2 separate regions of the Homo sapiens genome follow, and region 1 is linked to region 2. Evidence: fine-mapped expression QTL. Tissue or cell type: whole blood. Region 2 holds a variant in brackets; the other region holds the start of a gene. All regions are shown on one strand. Distances are from middle to middle.

What was found. PIP is the estimated chance that this variant, and not a neighbour inherited with it, causes the effect.
Region 1: KLHL3 starts here. The variant in region 2 is fine-mapped to the expression of KLHL3 in whole blood (TOPMed, PIP 0.96).

What each region holds. Positions count from the first base shown.
Region 1 is chr5:137,734,864-137,737,473 of GRCh38, forward strand. It overlaps KLHL3 (kelch like family member 3), which reads right to left and starts at 1,226. Exons shown (of 15, transcript NM_017415.3): 1 at 770-1,226. The coding sequence starts at 783. RefSeq lists an enhancer at 825-1,493.
Region 2 is chr5:137,907,968-137,910,467 of GRCh38, forward strand. It overlaps PKD2L2 (polycystin 2 like 2, transient receptor potential cation channel), which reads left to right. Exons shown (of 15, transcript NM_001300921.2): 8 at 798-979. Among named protein-coding and RNA genes, the nearest start is that of PKD2L2, 20 kb to the left of the region's middle. The variant G/A (reference allele first, on the strand shown) is at 1,314.

The DNA of each region.
Region 1 (2,610 bases), 170 kb before region 2:
GATCTTCAGATAACAATTTAAAAATTTAGATGTGTGTGCCTGCCAGGATCTAACTGCCTCGCTAGTTAGATCCAGCTCAACAAAAGTACTTAAAATCTTTTCTGCTGGTTCCTATTTCAAAAGAAATCCCTGATGGAGGAAGCACAGACCTTCCAGTATCACTCATAAACTTTTCAATACAAATATGAAACTCAGTTCAGAGCAAGTATCATCTGACTGGGTTTCTCTCCTTCATCCCTGAATGTGTGTGTATACAGGCATACACGGCGTGCACGCGCGCACACACACAGCCATCAGCATGGCATGCTTGCTGAAGATTCAAGCACTCCTGCGTGAAAATGCAAGTACACTATGTCAGGTCAGCCCCACTATGACATCAAAAACCCCCCACCAAAGAAAAAACACCCCGGGAAAGGAGCCAGGAAAGGGAAACGCCTCCTTGAAACAGCCTGAGAAAGGCAATCTGATTCAGCCTGTGCTGAAACTATTCCCGAACACCAGCCAGGAAGTCCCTTCTTTCAGGGTGCTCCGCTGCCTAGCAAACCCAGACCTGCCTTTGCGGAAGCCAGATCTCTGGAGATTCAAGCCCTGGAACGGGTGATTTGGAAAGCGGCTTTCCTGCTCTTGTTCTGGCGCCCTTTAAGATCCATCAGTGGCCAGGTCTTCCAACTCTGCCTAGCCAATGCAAACACAAAAGCTGGTGGCTGCACCGCAAGCACACATACACTTACATACACACACAACACAGCACACACTTATACATACATACCTTTCACCCTCCATTGTGTGAGGCCCAGCCAGGGTGGTAGCTGCTGAACTGTGTATGCACTCGGGGATCCTAGTTCTGTTCTTGATTCTCCCAGCAGACCAGTGGGAAATCTGATCAGCAACAGTGATTCAGCATGGCTGCAAGTGAAGCCTCCTCCCTTCTCAATCCTCCTTCCTCTGACTTACTCGCAGCAGCTTCTACCGCAAAAGCAGCAGCAACAGAAAATGTCTTACCCAGAGCTCCCTGCAGCCCTTTCAGCTGCTAAAAGCAGCAACCCACTTGCTCCCCCTCCCCCGCAGGCTTGCTGCTCCTTGGTCTCCTAGGAACGGCGGCAGCTCCAGCGACCCAGGTGCACTGCCACCTTTCCAGCTTCCTCTGCATCTGCCCAGGCATCCCCAGCCCAGGCGATTAGCCCGCCCCTGGGGCTCCTGCCTCCTCTGTCTAGGCTGCAAAGAATCAGGCAGTTCGTCACTAGCCCGAGAAATACTGGCCCCTACACCCTCCCCTGCTCCCATAGGCTATGAGTCTGTCAGCCTGGCCAGATTGCTGGAATGAGGAGGCCCCTCTGTGGCCTGCAGTGGAGTTTATCATCCACCTGGGGAAATTCACTTGTAGGTCACAGTTTATGTTCCAAATCCTCCTCCCAAATTCTGTAGTAGCTCTGAGTGTCTGATAGATGGGGAGAAGTTAAGGGAAAAGCACCTGACAGAAGTGAGAAAAACACAGAGAGAAATTAAGAGAATACAGAGAGAAATTGGAAAACTAGTCGAAAAAGAGAGGTAGTACAAATAGGTGAAACTGAAACAAACCCTATTTTACTGCAAGAGGCCAAAGACTACTGCAGTAAAGCTATCACAATGAATACTAAAATATCTTAGCACAATCCTAAAATATCTTCCTAAAATCTGTCATATTGGAATTTAACTTAAGCAGTGGCTCCAACTAGTAAGTCTCCCACTGAACCCCCATATCCAGCCAAAGATCTTTCACATCCTGTAATCTCCAGCTGCTGAGCTTCAATTTAGACTAATTTAACTCTCCCTGCCTGAAATGCCTTCTCCAATCCCAGTCCTTTAGTCTTTCTGGGAGTCCAGTCAAATCCCATGTCTTCATAAAACCTTCCCTAATCACACCAATGACAGTCAATCACCACCAAAATACACAAACTATACTTTCCTGTATCGTCATCTCACACCTAATATACAGTCTTGGCTAATTCATTATTTATAAATCTTCTTTCCCAAACTAAAACATAATCTTGTGGAAGGCATGAGGCCAGTCTGTATATCCTAGCCACAGAGGCTTAGAGGTAACTGGGACAATTAGCTGCAAAAAGTGGTGCAGAAGCTATCCTAATGCCTCAGAAAAAAATCAGCTATGAGCATCTCTCTTCTGGGACACCTCATGGCACCCCTGGGCTTTTCCGAATCCACACCAGCACTCACTGGGTGAGTGACTTTCCTGAGTAGTGTTCTCCACACTCTGGACCTCATGCTCAGCTACTCATTCACAATATAGGGTCAGACCAGACAATCTTTAGAGTCCCTTTCAGCTCCAAGATCACAGGATTCTAAAAATGTTTTAAATGGTCCGTTTTTCTTCTCAGAGTAATCCGTGTGATTGTTTAAGAAGAAATACTAGGCTCCAATGTGTTGTAGGGGGCTTCAAGGAGGATAACATGATGTAGGTGAAAGTACGAAGAGACGCTCAGTAAATCTATCATCCTTATCATTTTAACCTGTTAAATTTCTTCACTACTACAAAGCCCTAAAACCACAGAAGGAAGAGAGGAACACTGAGGTGACAGAAAGTAAAAGTAACTAAAACTTTATATAGCCTCC
Region 2 (2,500 bases):
ATTAAACTAAAAAGCCATGGGGAAAAAAGATTTTTTCAACTATTAAGTAATTTTAAAAGTAGTTTGGGCCAGCACAGTGGCTCATACCTGTACTCCTAGCACTTTGGAAGGCCAAGGCAGGTAGATTCTTGGCCCCAGGAGTTTGAGACCAGCCTGGGAAATCCTATCTCTACAAAAAATATCAAAAAAATATTAACTGGGTGTGGTGGTGCAAGCCTGTAGTTCCAGCTACTCTGGAGGCTGAGGTGGGAGGATCCCTTGAGCCCGTGAAGTGGAGGTTACAGTGAGCTGTAATCCCCCACTGCACTCCAGCCTGGATGACAGAAAAAAAAGAAGTTGGCCAGGCACGGTGGCTCACGCCTGTAATCCCAGCATTTTGGGAGGCTGAGGTGGGCGGATCACCTGAGCTCAGGAGATTGAGACCAGCCTGGCCAACATGGTGAAATCCTGTCTCTACTAAAAATACAAAAAATACTAGCTGGGCATGGTGGCACGTGCCTGTAATCCCAGCTACTAGGGAGGCTGAGGCAGGAGAATCACTTGAACCTAGGGGGCAGAGGTTGCAGTGAGCCGAGATCATGCCACAGCACTCCAGTCTGGGTGACAGAGTGAGACTCCATCTCAAAAAAAAAAAACAGAAGTTTGGCCTTGTAATGATTGCTGGGAAATCCTCAAACACCCATGATTATCATTAAATATCTCCTTTAATTCGAAGCAGAATTCTTCTGAAATTAATTTATTCTAAGTAATTTCATCTTTGATATTCTCCTATTTCAATTAACTTTGTTCTTTTTCAGATATTCAAATTCATAAGCTTTAACAAGACAATGTCTCAGCTGTCATCAACCTTGTCCCGTTGTGTTAAAGACATAGTAGGATTTGCCATCATGTTTTTTATAATATTCTTTGCTTATGCCCAGTTAGGATTTCTTGTTTTTGGATCACAAGTTGATGACTTTTCCACTTTTCAGAATTCCATGTAAGCTCTTAGTATAAATGTAATTATATCTTCTATATTTTCTTACAAAAAAAATTGGAAAGGTCTAACCTTCTATGATAAGTAGTAATATAAGCTTTAATATATTTAAACTTAGTTTGATATTTTCTTTTTCTTTTTATTTTTCTGGAGACAGGGTCTCATAGCTCACTGAAGCCTCAAACTTCTGGACTCAAGCTATCCTCAGCCTCCCAAGTAGCTAGGACTACAGGTGTGCACCACCACGCTTGGTTGATTACATTTTTATTATTTTTTGGTCTCACCATGTTGGCCAGGGTGGTTTTAAACTTCTGGGTTCAAGTGAACCTCCTGCCTC[G/A]GCCTCCCAAAATGCTGGGATTACAGGCATGAGCCACCAGCCTGGCTGATATTTTCACTGATGGCTAAATATCTGTCACATTCAAATTAGGATTTGACATTGAAGGAGCCAAATGGGTGACGGTGTCCATTTTTAAGGTGTTAATAGGTCAAGTTAGAAAAATAATTTTTCATTTTTCATTGGAAGTGATAATTTTACCTAAGATAATAGAAATTGTCCCCCATGTCTCTGTGGTGTTTATTCTCTGGACAAAAGAAATTTTTTTTTTTTTTTTTTTTTTTGAGACAGGGTCTCCACTCTGTCACCCAGGCTGGACTACACTGGCGTTATCACAGCTCATTGCATCCTAAAACTCCTGGGCTCAAGCAGTCCTCCCACCTCAGCCTCCCAAGTAGCTGGGTGTGCCACCACATCCAGCCAATTTTTGTATTTTTTGTAGAGATAAGGTTTAGCCATGTTGCCCAGGCTGGTCTTGAACTCCTGAGTTCAAGTGATCCTCCTGCCTCGGCCTTTCAAAAGTGCTGGGATTACAGATGTGAGCCACCACACCCAGCCAAAAGAAATCTTAAGTGTTTTCTTTAGAGGGCTCCATCTTAATATTTTTATTGATATTGACCTGATCGTCCTTTGCTAATCTGCCAAACATGTATTTTTAAAATAGCTTTAGGCTGGGTGCCATGGCACCTATAATCCCAGCATTAGGGAGGCCAAGATGGGAGAATCACTGAGGCCAGGAGTTCAAGACCAACCTGGGCAACATAGCAAGACTGCGTTTCTACAAAAAAACAAAAAACAACTAGCTGGATGTGGTGGCATATGCTTGTATTCCTAACTACTCAGGACACTGAGGCAGGAGGATCACTTGAGCCTGGGAGTTTGAGGTTACAGTGAGCTATGATCACACCACTGCACTCCAGCATGGGCAACAGAGTGAAACCCCATCTCTAAAACAATAATAATAATAATAATAATAATAATAATAATAATAATAATAAAACTTGGTAATAATTGGCATTGAATACAGATGTAATAATTTACAGAGCCTAGGAAATTTGTCTTACCGTGGGTAGTGAAGAGGAAAGGGAAGTATAAAGCACAGAACAGGTAGAGAACTTTGAAATGGGTTAATGAGAGGACGTCTGTTTTTGGTAAGGATATGTTAGGTTATTCAGATCAATCTCCTCTTG